Homo sapiens: one gene and its partners. The protein of the gene in region 4 interacts with the protein of the main gene of each other region in a pairwise test. Each region holds a gene or a part of one and is shown on either strand. Other genes may lie near its edges.

The links.
Region 1: the proteins of MRPS27 (region 4) and NECAB2 interact in binary tests that used the Homo sapiens proteins (3 or more experiments, as listed by UniProt).
Region 2: the proteins of MRPS27 (region 4) and CFTR interact in binary tests that used the Homo sapiens proteins (3 or more experiments, as listed by UniProt).
Region 3: the proteins of MRPS27 (region 4) and SNRNP48 interact in a two-hybrid assay, tested with the Homo sapiens proteins (one large-scale study listed by BioGRID).

What each region holds. Positions count from the first base shown.
Region 1 is NC_000016.10:83,970,863-83,974,743, reverse strand, and holds part of NECAB2 (N-terminal EF-hand calcium-binding protein 2), read right to left. Parts: intron 2,594-3,881; coding exon 2,569-2,593; intron 1-2,568. UniProt on the Homo sapiens protein: May act as a signaling scaffold protein that senses intracellular calcium.
Region 2 is NC_000007.14:117,612,144-117,616,024, reverse strand, and holds part of CFTR (cystic fibrosis transmembrane conductance regulator), read right to left. Parts: intron 1,413-3,881; coding exon 1,312-1,412; intron 1-1,311. UniProt on the Homo sapiens protein: Epithelial ion channel that plays an important role in the regulation of epithelial ion and water transport and fluid homeostasis. Mediates the transport of chloride ions across the cell membrane.
Region 3 is NC_000006.12:7,588,602-7,592,997, reverse strand, and holds the start of SNRNP48 (U11/U12 small nuclear ribonucleoprotein 48 kDa protein), read right to left. Parts: upstream 2,801-4,396; 5' UTR 2,741-2,800; coding exon 2,585-2,740; intron 1-2,584. UniProt on the Homo sapiens protein: Likely involved in U12-type 5' splice site recognition.
Region 4 is NC_000005.10:72,232,277-72,237,342, forward strand, and holds part of MRPS27 (small ribosomal subunit protein mS27), read right to left. Parts: intron 1,922-5,066; coding exon 1,843-1,921; intron 283-1,842; coding exon 167-282; intron 1-166. UniProt on the Homo sapiens protein: RNA-binding component of the mitochondrial small ribosomal subunit (mt-SSU) that plays a role in mitochondrial protein synthesis. Stimulates mitochondrial mRNA translation of subunit components of the mitochondrial electron transport chain.

The DNA.
Region 1 (3,881 bases), on a different chromosome or scaffold from region 4:
CATCCCCACTCCTACAAGCTTTTAAGCTGCTGTGTTGAATCAGAACCTGCCTGCACCGCTGCCCCCCGACCATGTGAAGAATATCACGTGCCATCTCCGAGCCTTGTTTTCGTCATCTGGAAGGAGGGTGGGGGTTGATACTTCTTGTCTCAGGAGGATCACAATGAAGATTAAAGGAAAAAGCACATTCAAGTCCTGGTGCATAACAGACGTTCAGTGACTGCTGGCAGCCTCCCCCAGACCGAATTCCCTGCTGAGCACAGAGGAATCAAACCCCTCTGGACAAGCCACACCTGCGGACTCCCATTTCCGAGGCATTTGAGGCAGAGCAGCGGGGACTTATTGATATCTTCAATGAGCGAAGCCAGGAGAGCAACTATCTATCCTCAGACAGCCCTCTGAGGTGGGTGCTGTAATTATTCCCATTTACAGATAAGGAAACTGAGACTGCAGAATTTGGTGACTTGCCTGAGGCCAGAGCCGGTACGCGGCTGAGCCAGGACTTGAGCCTAGGCAGTCAGGCTGGGGGACCTGGGAAGCTCTTGCTGGAACCCGCATCTCACACCCACATTCACCCTGGTGACAGCCCCTAACGGTCACATAGTGGTGGCTGGTAAGATGTAAGCCCCAAGGAGAAGGAACAGGCTCGGCCTTTGAGGAGGCTGCAGTAAGGAAACTGAGAGTCCCACAGCTGTGCTCAGGGGGTGGACACATGGCCTCTGATGGGGGGAGCCTGCAGCAAGGACAGAACCCCATCTGTGCCCGAGGGGGCCAGGCACCACCTGCCCAAGTGTATACACTGCAGTGGCTCCTGCAGAGCTGCACACTCAGGAAGCCACACACGCACACTAACTGCACACACACTCGGGATGCACAGCCATGGCTAGAGGCCCACGCTGGACACACGCATTCCCAACAGCCTCACGCTGCTGAGTCACCGAGATACGCACAGCCACGCTCTCACCAACAAACACGTCCACCAAGTCTACAGACATTTACCGAGGACCTACTGTGTGCTGGGTATCAGGCCCGGGACAAGGGACAAACCCAAATCCCTACCTCTCAACCTGCTGGAGGAGCCAGGCCAGCACACAGGCAATGACGCTGAGGGCTCCGGCGACCCCATCTCAGGGACAGCCCCCTGATTTCCCCTCCTCATCTCCAAGGCTTTTCAGGCCATGATGCTACGGCTGTTTTTCCAGAGCCACTTCATCTCCCTACGTCCCTCTTATTCCTCCTCTGCTCCGTATGGAATCACTGCTGATGGTCCTTCTTCCCCAGAGGCCTGGGAGTGGTCACTGTCACCCCCCAGGGATGCAGGAGGCCAGGGTGGGAGACTCGTTGGAACTGATTCCAGCCCAGGCCTGTGCACCTGCCCTCCCACCATGCCCAAGGCCTCCAACTCCACCCTGCAACCGCCCTGGGTGGGAGCCGTCAACAGGAACTCCCAGGGATGAGGCGGGTGCTGGAGACCCAGGCCAGAGCTGCCACCCTCAACTGCAGCTTGTGCAGGAGAGGAACCGGGGCCAGAGGCGTTGGGGACCAAGGGCCCTGGGGCAGGTCACAGGGTCTCTGTTGCGTGCTCTTCCCCTGCCACAGGCTTGGTACTTGATGTGCATTTTCTCAATGAATGAACATACCGGGAGCACGCGATTCTCTTTAAAAACATTTGTCACCCACACCGCCTCTCTGGCTTTTCCCCAAAACCCAGGGAAGGAGGCAGGGCAAGTGTTATTGCCCCACTTTACCCACGGGAAAACCAAGGCCCAGAGAGGGAATCTGTCTTGGTTCAAGTCCACGGTGAGTTGCGTTGCAACTGTAATAATGATTCTGGTATTTTTAAGAAGGTGCTTTTTGTCAGCCGAGGCTCAGCTGGGCCGCCTAAACGTGCTTATTCTCTCAAGGCCTGGGCTCCTTCTGCAAGTGAAGCCCCTCCAAGGAGTCGGGAGAAGTGGAGCGCTATGAATTCCGTGGCCACAACAAGGCGCTGCTCACATTTTTAAAGAGGCTGAGAGAGAAAGGGAAAAGGGCCCCGGTCTTCAGGAGAGCCTCCGTTTCCTTCATGCAGCTGGGCAACCCTGGGGCAAATTGCTTAACCTCTCTGGGCTGCTATGGTGTCAACAGAGGCAAGAGCACTGACTGCTCAGGTTGCTACGATGAAGAACTGCACCAAGGCTTGTGAAGGGCCTAGCGTGAGGCTGGCGGCTTCCTTTCAAGGAGGGTTTCTGGGCCCCAGCCCGGGCTCCTCTGGTCCAGCCCAGCTAGGAAAAGGCCTAAAGTACACCCAGCCCTTACCACGGCCAGTCATTGTTCTTGGCATCACAGACAAGACTCACTGAGCCCTTGAGTGGAGCTGTCCCTACTAAGTAGGCCCTACTAGGATTCCCGTTTTACAGACAGGGAGGTCAAGGCACAGAGCAGCAGCAGGATTTGGCCTTCTAACTTCAGACCCCTGCACTCCAAACCTTTAGGTTCAAGGTTGCGCTTGTCTCCTATCCCTGATCCCTTCCCCATGAAGCACGAGGACAGAAGGAGTGGGGCGGCCGTCGGCCTGGAAGGGAAACTCACCATTTTTGTCCGCACGGCGGAAAATCTGCAGAAAAGAGAGGCGGAGTCAGCCCTGGGCCAGGGAGAGGCAAGCGCTTCCTGCAGCCTCTGACCGGATACTGGGATCCTTCTCTTCTCCCAGGAGCAGCTTAGGGTCCTGGGAAGCTGAGCCCCCCTTCCCTCTCCCCCTCCCCGGGCTGGGATCCAGGGGGAACTGATGAGGGATGTTGCAGACAGAGGCCCTCCCCTCACCCACGTGGAAGCGGCTGCCAGTACCACCAGCCTGCTCCCAGCCACGCTGACACACACACGCAGGCCCACGGCCATCCCTGCAGGTGTAGGTCCACAGTCATCAGTCCACGTGGCTTCACCCACCGCCAAACGCTCAGCTGCACACAACCACACTCCGAATCAGTGTCCCAGGGAGCGCCACAACCTTTACCACTGCAGTCCTTCCAAAACCCCTGGTGTGTTTCCAGGGAGGTTGGGCAAAGTCCGACAGAGGTGTTTGCAAGGCCTGGTGACAATGCCAGCCACGGGCAGGACTGCGTTAATTTTGGGGTGCAGGAGGAGAAACAGGACGCCAAGAGTTCAGAAAAGCAGCCGCAGACGAAGTTCCGGCTGCATTAGGCAGGGATGGGTGGAGGGCAGCTCCAAGGCTGGCCTGAACCTACAAGACCAGGTGCCTCCTCGTTCTGCCTTTCCAGTGACATCTGAATCCGTGGGACAGAGCTGCTCCCCTTTCCTCAAGGTCTGGCTGGCAGGTGCTGCTTGCCAGGCTGAGGCTCGAAGGCAGCTTTCCGCCCCTTCCAACACCATCGCCTGGAGAGCTTTCAAAACCTCCTCAGCCCGGGCCACACCCCAGGGTGACTGAATCAGCTGCTGTGAGGCCCACTCTGATTTCAGCATTTTTAAAGCCTCCCAGGCCCAATGTTGACACCTGTGCGCTAAGACCTTGCTATTCACAGGAGCTGTTTGGGTCCTGCAGGAGCTTGTTTGCAATGCAGGATGTCCCACCTACTCTGCACTGTAGTGGAGTCAGACCTTTCACTGTAACCAGTTCCCACGGGGACTGATTCACCAGCACTATTTTTTTTTTTTTTGAGATGGGGTCTCGCTCTGTCACCCAGGCTGGAGTGCAGTGGCGCGATCTTGGCTCACTGCAACTTCTGCCTCCCGGGTTCAAGCAATTCTCCTGTATCAGCCTTCCGAGTAGCTGGGACTACAGACGCCCGCCATCACAACTGGCTAATTTTTGTATTTTTTAGTAGAGACGAGGTTTCACCTTGTTGGTCAAGCTGGTCTCGAACCCCTGACCTCAGGTGATCCACCCG
Region 2 (3,881 bases), on a different chromosome or scaffold from region 4:
GGTTTGGGAACATGAACACTGTCTCAGAGAACAAGGAAAGAAACTTAAGCAAAAAGTATAATTTTAAAAAGAGTATAATAATAGTGTTGCACAGTCATTCCTAACTTGGGTTTCTAAACCATCTACAAAAGCAGTGGTGAATGAATAATTTTAAATACAGTAGTACAAAAATACTTTAAAAATTCAATGATGAAGCTATCCAGACCAACCATATAGTCTGATTGAAAAATATGCATTTGATTTTTTAAACAAAAATGAGTAAATGTGCATCATTTCCTTTAATTTCTCAGTCCCGCTGCAATGGGATTTGTGCCCCTGATATGGTATTAGCACATAAGCATTACTATAATATTAATGGCTCTGCATTCTAGAAAACCAAAACAAGAGAAATAACACAACTAAAATGTGGTCTTTGTACACACTAATAAAGTATACAAATGTGTGGCAATATTTATCAAGCAGAAAGACAGAAGGCAATGATAAACACTTTAGGAATAAGAAAGGTGCTATCACTAAATAATGTGAAAAAAATTTAAATAATAGTATGAAAATGTTATGCTGCTAAATTTGAGAACCCAATATAAGGAAGGAGTTCTTAATCAAGATACCAAAAGCACAAAACATAAAGGAAAAGACAATAAATTGAACTTTATTAAACTTAAAAGCTTCTTTTCATCAAAAGACTCTATAAGCCAAGCCACTGACTGAGGGATTATGTTTGAAATGTATAGAGCTGATGATCAATCCATAATTCATAAATTCCTACAATTTAATTAAGGAAGAAAAAACTAGGTGACAAATGAGTAATCAACATGAATAAGAAATTAATGTAAGAGAACAGCAAAAGCCAATAATTATGTATGCAGCTTCCCTATATTTTTAGTAATCACTTCACATCTACCAGACACCAAGTGTTGTTGAAGATACATAGCTATGAGAATTCTTGTACTCTCTTGATGGGGATATATATCAGTACAACAGACTTGAGGACAATTTGGCACCACTCAGTTAAGCATGGGTGAATCCTATGACCCAGCAATACAACCCCTAGGTATTTCTCCTAGAAAATCCTGAATAAGGAAACAGGTGAAAGAATGCTCACTGCAGTATTAGATCTTCATAGTGGCTATCTATGAGAAGGAAAGAAGAGATAAGGATTTAATGACAGATACACAGTGACCCTCAATTTATCTGTAATGTTTTATTTCTTAAGCTCAATATACGGTATATAGTTCTTCCTCATGCTATTACTCATACTTTGTTACTTGTCTGAATTTTTTTCATAAAAGTTAAAAAGATGATAAGACTTACCAAGCTATCCACATCTATGCTGGAGTTTACAGCCCACTGCAATGTACTCATGATATTCATGGCTAAAGTCAGGATAATACCAACTCTTCCTTCTCCTTCTCCTATAGATGCACAAAAGACGTAAATGAACCTCATGTTATTTCTCTCTTCTGTGAACGACTTTATTCACACTTCTCCTAGGGCACATATCACATTAAATTTACATTTCAATTTTATGCTAATTTTAACAATTTTTAAATCTCAGTTCATCACAGCATCTACTAATAGAATAATGCTCTGCATATAGTAAGTATTCAACCAGGATTTTAAATCAAAGAGCGATTGAATATTAGGAAAGTGTTGCCCTTTTTAAAAAATGTTACTGGTATTGGAGGTGTTGTTGGTAATGGGTAGGTACCATATTTGTCTCTTCTACTATTATTCTATAAGTAATAACGGTAACATATATTAGAATGGGCAATGGGGAAAAGAGATCCTGTATCCAGATGAGCTGCTTTACAAAGAGACCAAAAGCAGGGGAAGAGTGTCCAAACAGCATCTGCAAGATGTTTAGGTGTGTTCTGTGCCTTTGCAAGGAGGACCTTTGCTAATTGCATGCTATTGGGAAGTAAGTGGACTTAGAATTTCACCGGACAGTCAGAAAACTAACAGTTCTGCCATTTGGAAAGAGAAAAGATTACCCTCTATGCAAAAAAAAAAAAAAAAAAAAAAAAAGATTACTGTACCTGGGAAGAACAACACTTAAGTGTTAAATTACAGTAATTTTTTTTTTAGGGCTAAAGAGGACAGCTAATTAAAATTCATGTGTTCAGTATTATGGCCATAGAAATTCTCTAAGAGGAATGTTCTTAAATTATTATAAAGTTAGACTATCAAGTCCCAATCAAGAGTTCTTACATCTGTAATGCATGATAAAATTGTCAAAAGATTCTACAATTGGGAGAAATAATTCATCTTATTATTAATTGAAATTTTTGTTTCTGCAATTCCTCTAACAGAAGGCATAATATACACAGCATATATCTGCATGTAGTATTAAATTATTTTCATATAGGCAAGATTTATCTAGACCCCAATATATTACTGTTCTGAAGGTTAAGCTGAGAAGATAAAATTTTAATAATAAGTCAGATAACATTTATTTAGTATTTACCATGGACCAGGCACTATACTAAGTGTTTTGGACAAATTATTACATTTACTATTCACCCCACACCTATGGAATAGGTAATATTATTGTGTCTATTTACACTTGAGGAAAATGAGGGGCTTAGATAGTTAATTAATGTTTGCAAGTTAACACAGCTGAAGACCAATTGAGCCAGGGATAATAATAGCTGGGTGGCCAACATCCACTCCGGCTGAGCATCTGATTTGATTGGTAAGTTCTGTACTATAATGATTGTTAAATGTTTTGATTATTGCCCCTAATAAATCAAGACTCAATCACACTCAACCATGTTATAGCATGTGTTATATTGGTTTGAATTAATTGTTAACAAATCTTCATTTATGTAATTCAGCCTTCTTTGATCTTATTTTCAAATAACTTAAAAGAATTTTTTAAAGTTGCTTAAAATTACAGTACTGATGAGGATTAGTACATTTGCCTGCCCATGTATATTCCTTTCATAGAGTCATTTCCCACTGCCCTAGCTGAGAGAACAACAAAGGTGGTGAACCCACTATCCTCATAGCAGCAGAGTAGACTGCAGTTGGACCCCTGAGCCAAAAGGAAGCTGTTTTCTGTTCTCTCCAGGACTTTGAGTTTGTACAGAGGAACTCTCCTGTAAATTCAGGAGGCCAGAATGGAGACACTACATAAAGTCAATGTGGCATAGCCCTGGTAGACCAGAAAAACCAGTCTTCAGAGAGAGAAAGGAATGAAGCAACCACAAAAAGGAATGGACCCAGGACAGATATAGACTCAAGAAGAAGAGCTGCAGCTGACTCTCTTGTGCCTGTTGCAGCTTCTTTAAGAGTCGAATGGCACCACCTTCTCGGTGTTCCATGAGGCCTTTCTGTAACTCCAGCAAATGCCTGCTTTCGGTTTGAGTAGAATTCTGTTCCTACAATCAAATGATCCTACAGATTTGGCATTGATTTGGCATTTGCTCTGCCAGTATTCACTGTCACATATAAGAAGTTATTTCAACACTTATCATAAATACTCAGAAATTCAAATTCTTAAATTAGAGAAACAAATTTACCTACATAGATTTTTATTTTACTTATTATGAAATACTTTGTTTTTCACTAAAGATCCTAAAATCAATCCAGAACATTTGTATTTGAAAAACATGGCACTTTCTTTTCTTCTTTTTCTTTTGAAAAATGTGACACTGTCTTTCTTTTCTGTGACAGTTTTTCTTTGTGTAAAACTCACAATTAGATAACAAATTTTATCTAGTAGAGATTTAAAAAAAACAAAACTTACCGACAAGAGGAACTCTGTGTGTGTGTGTGTGTGTGTGTGTGTAAATGCGGATGTTTCATTTCCCCTCTTTAGGAATCTATTAATTTTGAAGCTAGGACCCTTCACCAATATGAGTATGAAGAGGTGACATATT
Region 3 (4,396 bases), on a different chromosome or scaffold from region 4:
CAACCCTCAAATCTATTCCTTTTGTACTTTTCTATTTCAGTGAAAGGTCCCCCTTGCTCAAGCAAGAAACTACTTCTCCCTCATCACCCACGTCCAATCAATCACCTAGTCCTGCCAATTTAACTCCTAAATATTTCTGAAAATCCCTCAACATCCTCCATCCCCACTGCCACTTCCCCAACTCAGGGTATCATCAACTCTCTCCTGGAATACAACACCATCTCCTGACTACGCTCGCTCGCTCTCTCTCACTCTTGCTCTCTCTCTCTGCTTCCAGTCTTGCTGCCCTCCCCTTCAGTTTCCATCCTGTAGCTGGTTTGAATTCCATCTCTGCCACTTACTGGCTGCATGAAACTGGGTGAGGTACTTAATCTCTCTTTGCCTCATTTTCTATTATATAAAATAAAAATAATAGCAGGACCTCTCTCACAAAGTGATTGTGAAGATTTAAAAAAGTATACCAAAGTTTATACACATAAAGGAATTCAAATAGGGCCTGGTACATAGCAAGCATTCAATAAATGTATGCTATTATTTTATTAAAAGGTAAATGTGATTATAATATGCCCTGGCTTAAAATAATTCCATACCTCCCCACTGCCTTCATTAAAAAAAAAAAAAAAAATCTAGACTTTCTAATATGGCTGACAAGGACCTTTAAGATCTGACCTCTACCCACCATCACCATTCTACTCTAACTCTACACTCTATGCTCTAGCTATCCTTAACTACTTGAGGCTTCCCGATCTGGTCACTCCCTGTCTCTGAACTTCTACACATGCTGTTGATGCTTCTTCCCCGCACCCGCCAACCCCCTAGCCAATTCAACTCACTTTTATTTATCAGCTTAGAATTCACTTTGTCCAGGAAGCCTTTGCTGACCACCACTTTGTCCACCACCGCCTACAATAAACTGTACTATAGCAATTCCAACCCCACCCATCACAGACCCATGATAATATAATGGTTCAGTTATCCGTATTACCCCTCATCACCACCAGACAATAAGCTCTGTGAGGACTAGGAACTAGGTGACAACTAGGACTAGGAACTAGGTGACAACTAGGACTAGCTCTGTGAGGACTAGGAACTAGGTGACAACTAGGAACAGATGACAACTAGGACTGTTGTTCACTAAATTTCAGTACTAAAACACCGGCGGAAATCCTAACTGCCATTTACTAGCAGTGTATCCTTCGACAAATTATCACTTCTGTGTTCCTTTCCTCGTCTATAAAATGTGGCCAAAGATACCTACCTCATAGGGTTATTTTGAGTATTAAATGAAGTAATGTAAGTGGCAAACAAAGTGCTATTTAAACGTTAATACAAGGAATCCAATGTTACCGCAATGCTGAGTAAACAATGTATGGAAGGGTCTGGTAAGCCCCACTCAGTGGAATTCCCAGCTTCAAATACCCCTCTAAATGAATATTAAAGATTTTTTAATTTCCTCTGTGCTTTTAATACAATAAACAATGAATGGTATATACAGAAATCAAATATATTTTAAATGCCTCTGAGGAATCAGTCATGTAACTTAAACCCAGGAGAAATTATCACAGCATGGTAAACCCAGAAGTAATAGTAAAGATAATGAATTACCCCACATTGGAGCACTTCCCTTCCTCTCATTCCACCGAAAATACCCCACAAAAAAACAAAAATCACGAATGTTCACTCTAAATACACTTGCCTACATTTTTAAAAAAGCAATTCTAATGTCCACAGGAGTTGCCAGTTACCACCTCTTGGTGACAACCTTTAATAATCCTAGAATTGGTGCTGTCCCAGTCAGAAGTGTCCAATTTTAAGGCACAGAAAGGCGAACTGGCAAACTCCCAGCTCTCCTGACACCGAATCTGGTGCAACTGCGGAATCCGTATGACAGATGACAATGCAAACCGCCAATCCCTCTGCAGCGCTCTGAGACACGTTCACTTATTTTCTAAATAAATACCAAATCTGCCATTCCCTCCTCACTCAACACACCTTCCTGGATTTTGTTTGTTTGTTTTTTGAGACAGGGTCTTGCTCTGTCGCCCAGGCTGGAATGCAGTGGAGCGATCTCGGCTCACTGCAGCCTCGACCTCCTGGGCTCAAGCTATCCTTCCACCCCAGCCTCCCAAATAGCTGGGGCCACAGGCTCACACCACCACACCCGGCTAATTTTTGTACTTTTGGTAGAGAAGAGGTTTCACCATGTTGCCCAGGCTAGTCTGGAACTCCTGGGCTCAAGGGATCCTCCCGCCTTGGCCTCTCAAAGTGCTAGGATTACAGGCGTGCGCCACCGCGCCCGGCCCCCGGTTTTCTTTAAACTCGAAGTTGCGCGGGAGGAGCGCCGCACTGGAGGTCGATGTGGAGCCTTCGGGAGTTCCTCGCGCGCCCCAGCCCGGAACCCAGGGACGTCAGGGTTGCTCCAGGGCCCCCGGCGCCCCTCGGGTCCCAGGCGCCCATCGCGGCTCTGCACACGGACGAGGACTCCTCGCCCTTCCCTCCGCGGCTGCCAGTGCGGATCTCCCTTCTTCCAGAGAAGACCCCGGGCCGATAGTCCCCGAAAGGGCCCCGCGGCCGCGCTCCTCACCTCCGCCGCCTCCTCTTCCCCGGGATCCAGACTATCTAGGTCCCAGCCCAGGGACGCGGTCACCTCCTCCAACGTCCGGCAGCCGCTCTCCACGAACTCGTTCAGCTCCTCCTGCAGCCGCCGCCGCTCCTCCACAGGTGGAGGCTCGCCCTCCATAGCTGCAGCCCACCCGCCAAGAGGAAGCGGCCGAACTGCAGACCGCACGCGCAGGCCTCTGGGAGCTGTGGGCGGGGCCACAGTCGCCACGTGACTTGAACAGCCTATAGGGAAGAGTCCCGGGAAGGGCGGGACTGTTATTTTGAGAGGCGTTTTCCAATCTTTTCTCAGCTCTTGCGTGCATTTGCTCTGGCCTTTCCAGAAAGATATTCGCCCTCCTCGACTTCCTCAGAAAAAACGGCTTATAGCTACAGAAAAGTTTTAAAAATAGTACAATGAGCTTTCGTTTAGCCGTCCTTCAGCTCATTGTTAACATTTTGCCAGGTTTGATTTCTCTCCGTCTCTTCTCTCCACATTCACAGCCCCACCCAATGATTTTTGCTGAATTCTTTGAAAGTAAGTTGCAGATTTTTCACCCCCAAATATGTTAGCATGCATGTTCTAAGAATAAGAACATTTTCCTGTGTAACCGCAATACATGATCAAACCTAAGAAAATTAGTAAGTCCATAAAATCATTTATTATACAGTTCATATTCAAATTTCCCCATTGTCCCCAAAATTATTTCTATAGCAGTTTTATTTTTTCAACTCATAAGCTATAATTAGTTATTGTCTCTTTTAATCCAGATCAGCCTCCTTCACCCTCCTTTTTAAATTATTAAATCATTACATGTTGTGATGAGCCTAGGCCAGTTGTCTTGTAGAATCTCTCTCATTCTGGATTTGTCAGATTTTGTTTCCCTCATGATTAGATTCAGTTTGAGCACTTTTGCAATACTACCTAAGAGATGTTGCCAACTCACGGGGACGCATAACTCAGTTATATTAGTAATGCTAAATTTGATCACTTGGTAAAGGTGGTGGCTACATCTCTTCATTCTAATAGTACATTTTCCTCTTAGGAATTGGTAAGCAATCTGTGGATTATACCTTGAGTCCATAAGAATAACCTGTTCCCCAACTCCTTGATACAGTCCTTCACTGAATCTGTTGTTACATTAGGAGTTATAAGTGATTCCGCAATAGTATCATGCCTTTTATGTTTATTAACTGGCATTCTTTCCACACCTCCATTTTAGTGTTTGCTTCACTATGGGAATCAAGGTGTTTTTAAAGTTATTGATTTAAGGTTTTTTTTTAATTCAATATAATATACTCCTTTAACATCATAATTCTTGTTGATGCTCAAATTGTCCCAAATGTGGCCAGTGGAAGCCACATTAAGCCATCTGTGTCTTTCATGTATCCCTATTAGTCCTTGAATGCTTTCTTGCTTTGATAACACAAGCTTAACTTTGTACATTTCCTACCCAACACCTGGAATTAGCCCTTGTAGTTTCCCCAAATGGTTTCAACTCCTAGAATCTAACCCATTTTATATTACTTTTTAAAATTTTTTCAAGCCCAAGTGTCAAACCTTGGTTTCCTTTTGCACTTTGTTTACCCATGTGAAGGAACTGTGGGGGAATTTTTTGGTGAACAATTATTTCTAAAGGCAAATAGCACGGTTCTCACTTAAAAAAATAGTCATAAGACTATAAATAGGCAGCACCATAAAATACAGAAGTGGCTAGAAGCTGGTAAGAGAGGAGTATGAAGTTAATGTATTCATACTCTGCCTACAGTATCTTTTTTTTTTTTTTTTTGAGACGGA
Region 4 (5,066 bases):
TCCAATTCCATTTGTTAGAAACCAGTAACCAAAATGTATACAATAAACACACATTCCTGGTTGTGCCTGGCCACAGAGCTGCAGACACCTTTTTCCAGCTTTTGAGAGCAAGCCCCTGCTTGCCTTTTCTAAAGTTCTTAATACTGCTTTAGGGAAGATCACTTACACTGAAGTCTGTCTTCTTTGCCAGGCAATGAAATAAAACATAGAGGGAGAGAAGTTGGGTGGAAGGCACTTCAAAGGCTTCTTGCATCATGACCTCAAAAACCACAGATAAAGCATCTAGCAGAAGATGAAAGTAAAAAAGAGAGGAAATTAGTTGTAGGTAATATTACTAAATCTCTATTTAACTATAAACACTCTTAAAACGTGGGGCATGGTTTAAAAAAATGCAGAATTAAGAAGTAAAATATGCGGGCTTAGGCTCTGGCCCTAGTTCTTCCACAAACAAGGTTTTTCCTCAGCCTTTAGCTTCTATTTTACATACCAGAACGAACTAAATCAGGTGCTACTGCACCAACGTCCTGAAGGACATTAAATAAACCACTCATTTCTCTTGGCTCCCAGTATCATCGTCATAATGATAAAATACTATTTGCTTCACCTACTTCAAGAGAATTTTGGACAGTTCAACCAGAAAATGGCTCAAACTGTGATGCAAATTTAAGGCATCATGTCTACCAGCTAGAACAGCTAAGGCATAAAGGAGACACATATATTCTCAAGGTCACCCTGACAGGCAGAGCAGACAGGCTGGTCTGACTGCCCTATTCTCTGCTCTGGTACCTTCTCACTGTTAAGGCAGAAGAGGACAAAATGCTAAAGGAAACCCTAAATCTCAGGTGTTATTTCAAAGACAGCAAAATAATGACTATAAAAAGGACAATAAGGCTCAGTTTAAAATACTTGTTGGAAGGGAATGGGAAATGCTCGTTCATAAATTATAAGCCCCTGAGTATAACACGTAACATAAAATATTTGTTTGCACATTAATGCTGGTCATTAAAGCCTGGAGAGCAGGCTTTAAGCAATTTTTATTTTCCCTTGATATTCTACAACATAGATGGAGGCCAAGAAAATCAAGTCAAACAATTTCCTTTCTGTAGTTACTTGGTGGTAAAGCAGAGAATATTAACAATGGCTTAAAATATAGTGCCTGTTCATATCACAAGCACAACAAATGTTTTTTACTTACTGAATTATTTTTTTAACCAATTTTTACATATATTCATAACTATAAAATAGCACTGATTTGCAGCTGTTCCTACCCAGCTGGTTTTGCACATGTCATGGTTCTGAATGAGGCCACACGCATGGATTTCTATGTTCTTTTTGCAAATGGGGAAACTGAGATAGGCAGACCAGGTAGTCATCTAATAAGTCAGTAGAAAAATAAGAACCTGGAAGGGATTTTCTTTTACACAAACAAACAAGCCAGTAATATTTTAAAAGAGCATAGGCTAAAAATTCAGTTGAAAAAAAAAATCTCATTTCTGCCAACTGTTCATTACTGAATCCAAAATTATACTTGAAAAATAAATTTACTTTATCCTTTATTTATATTCTGCATTTCAGTCAGTTTGGGAAGTGAAATTAGATTGGCCTGTATAATTAACTTACTTTTCCTCCATAATCATTTATGTACTTTGATATTTTCTATCTTAAAATAAAAATAATGTTTTTAAAAATTTTGCATAAAAGATAATCATCAAAACTTTTCTGACTAAACGAGTAATGAAGAGATGTTATTAAGAAATAAAAAAGGGGAAGTTCCTACATTTGTACACCTCCCTTTGGGAGCTGGAAGCCCTATAAACACTGAATCTGGGGTTAGTTTCTTACCTTTGTAATTTTCTTTCTTTATGAAAGAATCCATCAGTAAATTGAATGTAAAGTTATCTGGAAAAATTCCATATTGAACCTATAATGAAAATGAACATAACAGGAAAAAAAGAGAAAATTATCTAATTTAGTCTGTAATATATGCCTATGTATTATTCAGAATAAAACTTGCCACCATTAGCTTTAAAATATTTGACTATCATTTTACAGCATCTGTGACAGTGAAACAGAAGCCATGACTCATGAGGTTTGGTAACAGGAACTGTTGGTCAGGGTGAGAAAGTTGTGAGTCTGATATAAGACAACTGATAATGTAAAAACTAAGGCTCCAATTCTAACACCTCATCATAGCTTAAAAAAAACATAAAAGAAAAAAGAAAAAAAGAAACCCACACAACCCCCCTAACTGGTTCAGTGACTCTTCTTATAAAGTATGAATAACAATACAAAAACAGACTCTCATGAGAAAGCAGACATTACACAGCATTTTCTGGTTCTTAGCCTGGCTTTTAAGGTCCCAAGAAATATGCCAAGAAATATTTGCTACTAAGTTTCTAGAATGTTGTGTCATACAACTGAATACTTGAGAATTCAGATTTCTTAAAATGTGGACCCTTTAGCACCTGCAGGATGTCGACTTTCTCAGAGTGTTTTTAACAATATAGATTCCTACGTCTCAGACCTATAGAACCAGAATCTGTGGGAATTGGGCACAAAACCCTGAATTTTTAGTGAGCTTCTTGTGATTTTCATGCATACTCATTTTACTACCAATGATCCTGATTGTGGCTGCATTTTTATTTGTTTCAAATTCTTCAGTAATGTTAACCACCATTCCCCACAGGGCTCCATTCTTCCCTCTTGGAACCAGTAGAAACACCTGAGGAATTTTTCCAAACTATATCCATATCCCCTTGAGAGATTTTGATACAGTCCTAACCCCCAACTGAATCACCACTGAGCTGACTCACTGTTTCCAGGTGTTATATATAGTAGCCTCAGGTGTGCCGAAATGGAAAAATGTCTAAAAACCACTGTTTTAAAGGTTGTAGCTCATGGCCAGTGTCTATATTTCTCAAAGCAGTCATCCAAATCAGTATTAATCCCTAGGGCAGGCTAAAAACCAAAATATTTTAGGATGACAAATCATTAAAGCTGAAAGGGATTTTAGAAATCAACTGGTCAGTGATTCTCAACCCAGGCTGCAAATGAGAATCAACTGAGAGCTTTAAAAAACAAACAAACAAACAAGCAAACCCAATGAGGGATGAATAGGCAGGGATGAGGGATGATACTACAATGGTGGATACATGTCATTATACATTTGTCCAAACCCATAGGACGTACAACATCAAGAGTGAACCCTAATGTAAACTAGGACCTTTGGGTGACAACGGTTTGTCAACGTAAGTTCATCAATTGTAATAAATGTACCACACTGGGGCAGGATGTTGATTATGAGGAAGGCTATGCATGTGTTGGGGCAGGGAGTACATAGAAAATCTATGTACTTTCCACTCAGTTTTGCTGTTGAAGGAAACAAAAATATTTCTCCCCAAAATAATTGAGGATGTTAAGTTAAAGATACTGAAAATGCAGGGGAAGACTCTGCCATAGCCTCCAATTGCCTGATGGCAGCACATAAATCCTTCCTTCCTAGAACAGCACTTGCTTCTGAGCCCAGAGAAGGCATCAGCAGGCACCAGAGGAATCTGAGAACAGATTTTACTATCTTCCCACATTTTCCCACCTTTTAAAGACTGGAACTTTTCCTTCGTCTTGTCACTGTATAGGATTTATGGCCCTTGGTTGAAATACTATTCAGTAAGGCCATAAGCCACTGCCTTGAGATAGAAATGCTTTTGAACTGAGGCCTTTCCTGTGTGATGAGTACAGCATGTGTTAATAAACTTCTGCTTGTTTTTCTTTTGTTAATCTGACTTTTGTTTTCAGCAGAGTGTCTCAACTAAGAACCTAAAAGGGAAAGAAACTAAATTATGTTTTCTCCCCTATACTGTGAACCCGAAACTGACAGAAAAATTTAAACTTATTAAAAAATTTTTTTAAATTCCAATGCCTGGGCCCTAGACAGATCAATTAAACTAGAATTTCAGGAGTAGAGGCAAACATCTACAATTTTTAAAAAGCTTCTTGGGTGACCCTAATGGGCAGCCAGAGTTGGAAATCACTGATTTACTACAACCCACTTGACTTAGAGTTGAAAAAACTAAGAGCTAGAAGAATACAGTTATTTGCCTAAAGTTACCAGCAACCAGGGGAGCCTGTGGGGCTACAGCCTGGATCTTCTGATTTCTAGTTTGATGTTCTTTCCACTAAAAGACTCAAGAAGCAGCAAAAATTCTAGACCCTCCTAGTTTTGCTATCATAGGAATCTTTGAGTGTAATCTGTGACATTACACTCTGAACTGAAGAAAACAAGATTTAATCCATTCCTTCCTCTGGGCCTTCCATTTCCTCCTCTTGAGATTCAAGGCTGTCATCTTGATTGGACTTATCCAGGGACCTAGCTCAATCTTTTACTCGCTTCCTTACCTGGTTCCTCCCTTAACATACCTTATACCCCAGGAAAAAGGCAATGTATTACTGTTCAGACTGAGTCTTTGTTTTCACCCAGATATACCTCTGGTAATACTGTTTCTGCCAGCCCATCTCCACGTGCAAGCATGCATCTTTTGGTGACCATCTTAAATGGTACCTCATGTCTCTTTTAATTATTTCCTTCCAATCAGATTCCCTCATCTTAATTCTCCAAGTTGTTTTTACTGTTTTTCTTTTCTTTTTTCCTTTTTTTTTTTTTTGAGACCAGGTCTCATTCTGTTGCCTAGGCTGTAGTGCAGTGGCATCATCACAGCTCATTGCAGTCTCCACCTCCTAGGCTCAGGTGATCCTCCTACTTGAGCCTCTAGAGTAGCTGGGACTACAGGTCTCGAACTCCTGGGCTCATGTGATTCTCCTGTCTTGGCATCCCAAAATGCTAGGATTACAGGCATGTGCCACGGTGCCTGGCCTTTACAAATATTCTTGTGTGGCACCTACATTTGCCTAATATTAGATTTATAAGTAATCCTGCTTATCTGCCTTATTAAACTGTAAACTTCCTGAGGGCAAGAACAGAATATTGCTCATTTTTGTATCCACTATCAATAACCAATCCAATGTCTCACAAACAAACTGTATATAATATATATTAAGTTGAACTGGTG